2 separate regions of the Homo sapiens genome follow, and region 1 is linked to region 2. A link means that fine-mapping ties the variant in region 2 to the expression of a gene that starts in the linked region. Tissue or cell type: whole blood. Region 2 holds a variant in brackets; the other region holds the start of a gene. All regions are shown on one strand. Distances are between the middles of the regions.

Region 1 (5,439 bases), 460 kb before region 2:
AGGGAGGAGTTGCTGGGGCACAGGACTCCTCAGAAGGGCCACGCTCAACTTCTCTGAGTCCTATGCAGCCACACCAACCTCCTCTAGGTCCCTTCCTGGCCAGAGACCTAGTTGACTCTAACAGTGGTGTCCCCTCTTCCAGTACAGAGCTCCCTGAAGTACTAGGGTGAAGGTAGAGAGGGGCCTAGGGCGTGAAATATAAGAGGACCTAATTCCCAGGCTCGCGCAAGTGCAAGCTTGGTATCTGCATGAACTTGAGAGTTGGCGCCTTCTTCAATTTTGCGCCAGGGATGCCTTGGCTACCTCATCCTATCCCAGCCCTATTGATACTCCCATCAGCTCCTCAACCCTCAGTTCCCTGCCTTTGTCCCTGACGCCTCTCACCTTCCTTTGGGACTCCCTGGGATCACGCTGCCCTGAACTGCAGAACCTGGGCTGCCTCTGGACTCAGGTGAGCATCCGCCTCTGGCCTTCACTTCCCTCCTTCCCTTTGACGTCTTCCTCTCTCCCCTGCTTTGCCCATAGCCCCAGGTCTAGGCCATGTGGGGCCTGTGACATCCCTTTGTCAGGCGCGGTGGCTCATGCCTGTAATCCCAGTACTTTGGGAGTCCGAGGCAGGTGGATCACCTGAGGTCAGCAGTTCAAGACATCCCTGCTGTGCTCTACCTTTGGGGCCTCATCCCCTCCCCCATTCCCCTGCCCACACCAGGCTTCCCTGGAGCCACCGTCTGTAAATCCTAGCTAGGCCCTTGTACTTCAAACACACTCTAGCAGGATGAGTCTCAACTATGCAGAGTCCTCATATTTGTTCTAACTTGTGAAAGGCCTGATTCTAGTGGCCACTCACAGTGACTTCATTCCGGCAGATTTCAGGGGGAATATAAGTGTGTGTGCTTGTATAGGTGTGAGTGTGTGAGATAGTGTAGCGGTGTGTTAGCACATGTGTGAGTGTGTTGCCATTAAGAGCCTGTGGATTTCTGATGCATGAGTCATTAGCTGGGAGTGAGCCTTGGGAAGATACTGCCCATAAATAAGACAGCCATCCCTGACCTGCTGTGGCCATCTGCAGCTGCCTGCACACGTGATCCTGGGCATCTGGGAGGCTGGAGGCCGGGTTCGGGGCTGCCTTTCCCTCCAGATTCCAGAGAGACAGTGGCTGTCACAGATATTTCTAGCTTGCCTGGAGTCCCAGACATTTAAGGGTAGAATGCCTGGAATGGGGATGGAGAGAGGAGAGTAGGAGAGGAAAATAAAGGGTGGTTCAGGAGGCTCTGCCCCCAGGGATCTCAGTGGAGCCTCCTGGCCCACAGTGGGAAGCATGCATTCCACAATTATTTTCTGAGAATCTGTCACATGCCAGGCATTCCCCCAGTGGGTAAGGACACCCTGGTGAACACGACTGACCTGTGCTCTCCCCTCACAGAGCTTATGTTCTAGCAGGGAGGCAGAAGATAAACGAGGAAAGGCTACTTGTAAACAAGTTCCATATAAAAGCTATGATGAAAATAAAATGGAATATTGTGGAAAGTGACTGACAGTGGAGGGGGTCCTTTAGTTGGGGCAGTCAGGGAATGTCAGGACACGAATTGTGCCTAGATAATGAGGAGCTGCCAAATGGAGACTTGGGGGAAGAACCTTTATTACAGAAAAGGATACATGAGATGTCCCCCTGCCCACCCATGTCTTCACTGGACTCTGGATCTGAGTTGCTGAAGCCAGAGCAGGGAGCTAGAGATGACTTAGAGGAGCAGGAAGTCTGATTCCCTGGGGGGAACCTTGGAACATCTTCCATCCCTGATAGACCAGGAGAGATGCCCCGGGTCCAGGAAGGAGAAGAATGACTTCTGTTTCCCTTCCTGAAGGCTTCTTGGTGCAGTGTTGAGCTACAGGAAGGCACTAGCCACATGAGCAGGGCCCTTGCTGAAACCCCCTTCCTCCAGGAAGCCTTCTTTGACTGCCATAGGCTGCAGAGGCTCCTCTCCCCCACCTTGTTATAGCTAACAGAACCACTCAGTTCAGAGCTGGTGGTCTTCTGATGATCTGTCCCGGAGATCTGTTCCCTCAGCTTGGCCAGAGCTCCAGGCTTGTGAGTCTGGTCCGCGGGCATTCAAAGGCCCTCAGTGGCATCTGTGCATCAGTGAGACTGCCCGGGGTTCCTGCTCTGAACCCTTGCCCTAGTGCCCCTAGCCTGGCTGAGAACGGAGGGTCAAGTGCCGGGGTTCTAATCTCAATTACTTTATCCAAGCATCCGCTCGCTCATTTACATGTTTCCCTGGGCTCTCCACTCTGCGCCAGGCCCGGTACCTGGAGCTAGGGAAACCGAACATTAGTGCTGGCTCGCCCGCCCCCGCATCCGGGGAGCTCGGCGTTCTCGCGGCCCTGCTCCCCTTGTTTTCAAGTGCAAGTTCCATGTTTCCGTGCTGGGAATAAGGCCAGCCCCGGGTGCCACCATACTCGCCTGATGTCTTACCCCGACCCGCGCCGCCGAGAGCTTGCGGCTACGGGAACGCGGCGCGCCCCGGGGCCACATCTGGCCTAGCGGGCGCGCGCGTGTCACTAAGACGCTCATTCACCGGCGCAGCTGTCACCATAACAACCGGAGCGAGGGAATCCTGGAGACTGCCGGGGCGGGGGGCGGGGGCGGCGGTCGCAGGAGGGACCCGGCGCGGGCGGGACCGCGGCGGTCGGGGGACACCAGCTGCGTCGGAGCGCCCAGAACGCCCCGCGCTCCGCCGAGCCCCGCTCCACGCAGACCCGCGGGCGGGAGGGAGCCACGCACATCGCCGCCGCGGCCGTCTCCGCGGGGCGGTAACCGAGCCTGCCTCGGAGCCGCCGAACGCCCACGCCAGCGACCCTGACTCTATGGCCCCGGGGGAGCGCGCCGGAGCCGCCGCGCCGCCCACCCCCAGCCGGAACCCTAGCGTCCCGGGGAGCAAGCGGGGAGCCCCGGGCGTCCCCGGCCCCGGCCCAGGGCCCTGCTTGTGGCCCCCGCTCCCGCCACGGGGCATGGGAGGCAGGTAGCCCAGCCTGCGCCAGGACACCCGTGGCGGGCGGAACCCGCCAAGGACCGCGAAGTCCAGAGAAAGGAAGCTGAGGAGCTGCCCGCCCGCCCCCGGCTGCAGCCCCAGCAGGGCCCTCCCCCGGTGGCGCGCACCCGCGCGCGCACACTCGCACACCGCACCTCAGCGCCTGCCCGGCCTCGCCCCCACCCGCGAGCGCCGAACCTCCTGGGGCCGGATGCCATGGGTAACAACTTCTCCAGTATCCCCTCGCTGCCCCGAGGAAACCCGAGCCGCGCGCCGCGGGGCCACCCCCAGAACCTCAAAGGTAGGCTCCCCGGCCGAGCGCTGCTGGAGGACTGGGGCGCAGGTGGAGGGCCAGGGAGGTGTGGTTGGGGAGGGCGGGCAGACGCCACCTGTTGTGCGTGTCTGGAGGCCGGAGATGCACCTCTGGCCGTGGAGTGGGCTGGGGGTGGAGGGCAGCCGGCGATGATGGTGATGGAGGATGGCGTCCCGCGGGGTCTGCGCAGTTCTGTCTGCTGGCACTGGGAACGTCACTGGAGTCCCCTCAGGCCATGGTCTTAGGCGAGCCTGAAGAGATGGGAAAGGATGTTTGCCAGGTCGATAGGGGAGTGGGGAGTGAGGAGGGAAGCTTGGGTCGTCCGTGTCTCCAGGGAGGCACCTCGATGGGTCTCCTTTCCATCGGCCCTAGGGCTGGAGAGACCAGGCTGGGAGCACTAGTTGCATTTCCAATGGGAGGGTTTTAAAAATTCAGGACAGGATTACAGCAGCCTGGAAGAAAGGGTCAGAGCTGCTGGTTCCTGGGGTCCTTTGCAGCCGTTGGGTTTTTGCATCCATTGAATTAGTTTGATTTCTGGTTTTCCCAAAGACCAGATATCCAGTCAGAGCCCTAGAAAAGAGGGTCTGGGAGCCTTGAAACAGAGGGACATTTACTAGGAATGTCTTTGCTCTTCACCTCCCCAGATCCACTCAGCACCCTCAGGGTGGCCCTAGGCCCAGTCTCCCCATTCGGAGCCTGCCATTCCTGTCTTGGATCTTCCAATGCTGTCTCTGACCTTTGGAAGACACTGCTGGGTCCTCCCGGGCCCTCAGACCCTACTAAATTCCTTCCGGAAGGTGCTTTTCTGTCACCTCAGAACCAGTGGCACTTGTCCTGGGCATGATGGCTAAAAGCCAGGAAGGGAAGCCCTTGGGCTTTCAGAAAGAATACCCCACTTCCTAAGCTCCTCAGGTTATGAGAAGGATAACAATAGTGCCCTTTAACACAAGGCATCGAACTTTCTCAAACACATTTTCAGTGAGCATGGACACTGCTTGGGGTAGTCAGCAGAGCAGAGCTAATCACACTATACCCATTTTACAGATGAGGAGAACCAAGGCTTGCTTCAGGTTCCCAAAGCCAGCCAGACCTCGGCGCTAGGTGCTAGGCTGTAGACCCCTATCTTTTGACTTGGAATTCTGTCCCTTCTTTTGCTGAACAGTTAACTTTTAAGACCAGGGAAGAGGAGGAGAGATAGGACCACTGTCCTGCATTCTAATACTCCAGCTCTTTCAGAACTTCAGCTTTCACTTGGCTCAGGAAAATCAGTGGATTTGTTGTGTCTTTCTGGAAATTAATATGGCAATACATGTCAAGATACTTTAAAAATATCAATTTGTTGGCAGGGTGCGGTGGCTCACGCCTGTAATCCGAGCACTTTGGGAGGCTGAGGCAGGTGGATCACTTGAGGTCAGGAGTTCCAGACCAGCCTGGCCAACATGGCGAAACACTGTCTCTACTAAAAATACAAAAATTAGCCGGGCATAGTGGTGCGTGCCTATGATCCCAGCTACTTGGGAGGCAGATAGGCAGGAGAATCCCTTGAATCTGGCAGATGGAAGTTGCAGTGAGCTGAGATCGTTCCACTGCACTCCAGCCTGAGCGACAGAGCGAGACTCTGTCTTGCTAAAAAAAAAAAAAAAATCAGTTTGTTGACCTTGTAATTCTACCTTGAGGAATTGATACTAAGGAAGTGGAGATGCAGGAATATATACTTATGGCACTAGGCTAGGATGTTCATGGCAGTGTTATTTATACTAGGTGGATAACCTAAATGCTCAGTAATCATGGTATATATTCTTGGTAGAGTACTATGCAGTGATTACAATTATATTTGTGAAGAATAGTTGATGACTGTGGAAAATGCTCACAGTATAACGACAGAATACAAAGTTGTGAAGACTGTATGATCCCAATTTTGTTTAAAAAGTGGTGTGAATGCAAAAAACCCCAACAAAAACAAAACAAGCAAAAATGCTTGTAAAGTTTCCAAAGGGTTAACAATTATTTCCTCTGGGTATAGGATCATATGGGATTGCATTTTTTCTTTTTTATATTTTGCTCTTTTCTAAAATTTCTATAATAAGGAAGTATTATTTT
Region 2 (6,025 bases):
AGTTTGTTTGTTTAAATCAGGAGAGTTCCATAATGTACATAAGATGCCCTGTCAACATAACTCACAATTGTTGAGCACTTACCAGGTAGCAGGCACCATGTTAAGTGACATACTATTTAATATTTACCACAACCCCATCAGGAATGTATTATTAATAATAAAAATAATGATGATAATAACGTTCCCACTTTAGAGGTGAAGAAGCTAAGTTTCAGAGAGGCTAAGTAAATTCTCCAAGCTACACAGTTTGTAGAGCAGGGATCAGAATAGAACTGATCAGATTGCAGAGCCTGTGCTGTATTTTAGGCACAGCTGGTGAGGGTATGAGGCTTCTAAGCTCTCCTGCCTCCTAATCTGCTTACCATATATTAGATGCTTGATTAATGGTATCTATTATCATTACCATTATCTTTATTACCATCAAAAGAGGACAGCTCTATAGGAATTACATTATACATTTGGATATGCAATTTTAGTTGAGGCTGATGAACTAGTGGCCTAAAATCACTAAATTTAAAGATGACTTGTTTCAACATAATAAATAAAGTACGAAATATTTTCATTTACCATTCACTCATTCTATTGGGATAGTGTACAGAGTCATGAAAATATTGCCTCAATGGATTTTCAGCTACTCAGAATAGCTCTCCATAAAGAAAAAACAAAACAAAACACAAATGGCCAATAAAAAATACTAAAGGATGTTCAGACTTACTCATAATTAAAGACATATCATTCAAAACAGTGAGGCTCCAGTGCTGCCATGTGTAGTTGTTCGGTTTGAGCACTGTGTAAGGTGGCTGGCCAAAGGGCAAGTGGAGTGAAAATGGAATTCTGAATGGCAGACTCCATGTTCTGTCATGGTCTCAGTCCGCCTAGGAGGTTATAGGAAGCAAAGAGAGGAGGGAGATTTTTAAATTCCTTTGCCCAAAGGGATTTGAAAAATATTAATGCAAAGGCATGTGTCTTAGTCAGCTTATGTTGCTATAAAAGAATGCCTGAAGCTGGGTAATTTATAAAGAAAAGAGATTTATTTGTCTTATGGTTCTGCAGGCTGTACAAGAAGCACGGTGCCAGCATCTGCTTCTAATGAGTGCCTCAGGCTTCTTCCACTCACAGTGGAAGGGGCAGGGGAAAGGGAGCTGGTGTGTGCAGGGGTCACATTGCAAGAGAGCAGAAGCAAGAGAGAGAGGAGGAGGTGCCAGGCTCATCTCAACAAGCAGTTCTTTCGGGAGCTAAGTATGGGAATTCACTCATTACCATGAGGCCAATCATGAGCATCCACCCTCATGACCCGAACAACTCCAACATTGGTGATCACATTTCACATGCGATTTGGAGGGACAAATATCCAAACTATATCAGCACCCCACATATAATCTTTTCACCTCTTATTATGGACAAAGGTTTAAAAATTTTGTTATGTCCACATCTAGTGAGGGTGCAAGGAAAGGGGCATTCTCTTACATTGACTATGGAAATTTTTGGAATTTAAATTGGTGCTGTTTTTTTGGAAAGCAATTTTACAATTTAAAAAGAGTTTAAGTTCTCACAACATTTGATCAGGAATTCTACGTCTATGAATTTATCCTATATATATACTATACAAAAGGGCAAAGAGGATATTTGAGGATGTTCCTTGTAATCTTATTTGTAAAAGTGAAAAACAAAACACTATCCACATATTCATGTAGGAAAGTCTGGTTAAAAATTTATGGTACATCTATGTAGTGGAATAATATGAAACTACTATGAAAGTATGTGTATGCACTGATATGAAAAGACATGCAGAATATGTTAAATGAAATCAATCAAGTTGCAGAGCAGTTTGCATGTGATACTCTTACTTCTGCAGAAAAGTGACATAAATGTGTGTATATGGTTGTAGACTTATTTTCTGGAAGGATATACAAACAATAGTTAACAGTGATTCCTTCCAGGATGTGGTACTAGAGGAATAGAGGTACAGGATCTTAATCTTTTTTTTTTTTTTGAGATGGAGTCTCACTCTTGTCACCCAGGCTGGAGTGCAGTGGTGCAATCTTGGCTCACCGAAACCTCCACCTCCTGGATTCAAGTGATTCTCCTGCCTCAGCCTCCCAAGTAGCTGGAACTACAGGTGTGCACCACCATGCCTGGCTAATTTTTGTATTTTTAGTAGAGACAGCGTTTTGCCATATTAGCCAGGCTGGTCTCAAACTCCTGACTTCAGGTGATCTGCCCACCTTGGCCTCCCAAATTGCTGGGATTAAGGGTGTGAGCCACCATGCCCAGCCTTGGGATCCTAATCTTTAACTTTATATCTTATTTGTTCAACTATTTTTTAAGAATAAGATGAGAACAAATTAATGGGTTTTGGGGGAAAACAGGTGTGAGACAAGAGTGTGCTGAAATGCAAATACTCTTGGATTTGATACTTAGAGAGGGGAAGGAAGCAGGATTGGGCAGGAAGAAGTTGGATCATGAAACAGTCTCAGTGAAGGCCTCAGTTAACCCCACTGAGATATCTGAAGCTGGAACAGCCCTTCAGGGTCGTCCTGAGTTGAGACAGGGGGGCTAGACCTTGACAGACCCTGGCATCAAGCAGTCAGTGGATGAGGGCTGTCTCAGGAAAAGGATGTGGCCTAGGGAGAGGAGAGCCTCAGCTGGGACAGTTCTGAAGACTCCTGAAGGGGGCACATTGTAGCACCACTTCTCTAACAAAATTGTTTTCCAAAGGTTCAATGACAATTTAAATTTGTCAAAACCCCTCTCAGACCTTTCCAAGGCAGCTGCTGCAGCTGAGAACGGCACTGGATTTTGGCTCTTTCTCCTTGGCTCTGGCTTCCCATATTAAAATATTGACATGTCATTTGATTGCTGGTCTCTTTGAGTTCCTACCCCCAATGCTCAGCAAACTGTAAAAAGATGAAACGTCTTCCATATCAGAAACATCACTGTTCTTTTTCTTTTTTAAGATGGTGCCTCCACTCATTATTTAAAACTCTAATAAAGGGGGTTTAAATCTGCTGGTTAATTTGCTACACGGTCTTGGGAATTAAGGGGATACTGAATTTTTCCTTCTGTGTAGCCCATGAATAAGTAATACTTTGACTACACAGAAACCCTTGTTCCTTAATAAAATGATGTTTTATTGAAGCTGGAGAAGCACATCACCTTACAATGCTTTTATATCAAATACTTGAACTAGTTTGTTTTGCCCGCTCTAAGAAGGAGTGAATAATTTGAAAACAACTCAGTTGGCCTGGTTTATAGGCGTATAACACATTGTAAATAAGCTTATCTGGAGAATCTGGATACTATCAAACCATAATGGAACATAGGCTTCCTCGGGAAAC[T/C]AAATCGTGTGGTTTGAGGGGAGGACAAAGGAAAGCTCTCTGGAACAAAGGAAAGCTCTCTGGAAGGGAACAAGTGCTTCTGAGTTTGTTAGTTTAGCAGGATTGGTTCTGGTGTGGGATGGCAGTAATATTTGGCTTCAAAGCAGTCTTTATCCCTTAATAATTCCCTAATCCTTGCTGTTATGTGAACCAGCAAACATTTGAAAGGCAAAGCTGTAGAATAGAATTAGGATGGTCTCCTGAGTGAGGCAGAAAGATTCAGTGAGAGGAAAGGACTTTCAGGGTTCCAACAGAAGCCTACATTTTGTGAAAGTCAGTAAATATCAATTATAAGCAAGATGCTCTACAAATCTCAGTATGATTATTGGTGCTAATCAGGTATAAAAACCACCGCAGTGGCTCCCTATTATGGAAAGAATCACAGAAAGGGAAAGGCCTCCCCTAGTGCTTGCTCAAAATCGTACATGGAAGAGGCTTAGGGGGGTCTAAACTATTCGTTTGGAACTGGCAGACTTACCTCTAAGCTGTGTTTACATATCACTTTACATAATGTTGAGAAAAACTACGTCTATAATATTAATACTTGTCCATGTCAAAGAATGAAGGAGGTGGTTGTCAATGGTAATGATGGGGGCGCCAAAGTCCATTCACATCATCCCTACATGCTACCATTTTTCTTTCCTATGAAAATGAAATTGTAATGAACAATGTGACCAATGAAAGGTGATTTCTTAACATTTTGCTTGGGGTCTTTGAGTGTAAAGCTATGTTAACTGCAGAACAGTAACGTAAATTTGGGTTTATTAATATCATTAAGGTAAACCTATGAATTTGCCTTTGAACAAAATACAAGGTCATAAAATTGATTATAATGAAACAAAACTATAGTGACAGAAAGCAGATCAATAGTTGCCTGAAGACGGAGGAGGGAGGCGGGAGAGATTATACAGGAACATACAAATTTATAATTCACAATTATAAAGTTATAATTCAGCTTTATAATAAAGTTTTGACATATATATTCACTTGTAATCTCTCTTCCCTCCTCTCTCTACAGGCAACTATTGATCTTCTTTCTGTCACTATAGTTTCGTTTTCATTTGTTTCCGTTTACTGTATAAATGGAATGTACTCTTTTTTTGGGGGAGCCTGACTTCTTTAACTCAGCATGATTATTTTGAGATTGATCCACATTGTTGGGTATATCTATGGCTCATTCCTTCTTATGGCTAAGTAGTATACCCTTGTATGGATATGCTGCAATTTGTTTACCTATACACCTGTTGATAGATATTTGAGTTGTTTCCAACCTGGGCTATTATACACAAAGCTGCTATAAACATGCATGGGCAAGTATTTGGACCTATACCTTCTTTTCTGTAAATACTTAGGAGTGAAATGGCTGGATCATATGGTAAATATATGTTTGACAGTTTGAGAAACCATCAAACTGATTTTCAAATTAGTTGCACATTTTACATTCCCACCAGCAATATATGAGTTTTTCCAGTTGCTCAGCATCCTTGCCAACACCTGATGGGGAGAGTCTTTTTAATTTTGGCCATTCTGGTGGTTGGGGACTGGTATCTCATCGTGGTTTTCATTTACATTTCCCTTATGATTAATGATGTTGAACATATTTTCATATGCTTGTATGCCCTCCATATATCTTTTTTATTGTTGAAATGTGTGTCTAAATATCTTGCCAATTTTTAAATTGGGTTAGTTGGCTTGGAAAAAACACTCCAGGCAGTTAGGACACCTGAGTTCTATTTCTAGATCTGGTCCCAGTGTTGCCATACTATTTGACCACAGATTTCTTGCCTCTCTCGACCCTTTGCAAATGAGGTTAAGCCCACTGCTCTGTAAGTCTTCTTTAAGAGTCAAGTTATTTGTTGGGTATATGTTTTGGAAATATTTTCCCTGAGTTTGTGGCTTGCCTTTCTTAGTAGCATTTTTTAAAGAGAAAAAGTTTTAAATTTTGATTAAACCCAATTCATTAATTTCTTTCTCTTATAGTTTATGCTTCTTGTGTCATATTTAAGAAATCTTTTCCAAAGCCAAGATCACTAAGATTTTTAAAAGATGTTTTATAATTTTATAATTTTTAATTGTAGCTCTTACATTTAGCTCTATATTCCATTTAGAGTTACTTGTGGTATATGGTATAATGTGGGGGTTGAGGTTACTTTTTATTTTTTCATGTGGCTGATGGTTTCAGCGTTATTTGTTGAAGATATTATCCTTTCCTCATTGAATTGCCTTGGCACCTTTGCCAAGAATCAATTGACTATATGTGTGCGTGTGTGCATATACATATGTGTATGTATACATATACATGTATATGTGTATATATATGTATGTATGTCTAATGCTGGGTTCTCTCTTATGTTTCATTTTTGCCCATCTTTAGACCAGAACCTCTCCTGATTACTATAGCTTATGATAAGTCTTGAAACCTTGTAGTGTAAATCCTGTATCTTTGTTCTCTTTTTCTCTCTTTTGTTATATGGTAGATTGTTTGCTTTTCCATATTCAGCATTAGCTTGCCATTTTCAGACAAAACCCTGAAGGGATTTTGATTGTGAATGCATTGAATTTAGACATCGGTTAGGGGAGAATGAACATCTTAACAATATTAAGTCTTCTAATCCATGAAGATGGTATACCTCTCCATTTATTTGGAT

Evidence for each region. PIP is the estimated chance that this variant, and not a neighbour inherited with it, causes the effect.
Region 1: NEURL1 starts here. The variant in region 2 is fine-mapped to the expression of NEURL1 in whole blood (TOPMed, PIP above 0.99).

What each region holds. Positions count from the first base shown.
Region 1 is chr10:103,491,146-103,496,584 of GRCh38, forward strand. NEURL1 (neuralized E3 ubiquitin protein ligase 1) reads left to right here and starts at 2,560. Exons shown (of 6, transcript NM_004210.5): 1 at 2,560-3,327. The coding sequence starts at 3,243. NEURL1-AS1 (NEURL1 antisense RNA 1) reads right to left here. Exons shown (of 4, transcript NR_120675.1): 3 at 3,416-3,590. RefSeq lists silencers at 2,769-2,918, 2,929-3,058, 3,139-3,238 and an enhancer at 2,905-3,454.
Region 2 is chr10:103,948,754-103,954,778 of GRCh38, forward strand. All of the region lies in intron 3 of LOC102724351 (a long non-coding RNA gene), which reads right to left. Among named protein-coding and RNA genes, the nearest start is that of SLK, 15 kb to the right of the region's middle. The variant T/C (reference allele first, on the strand shown) is at 3,339.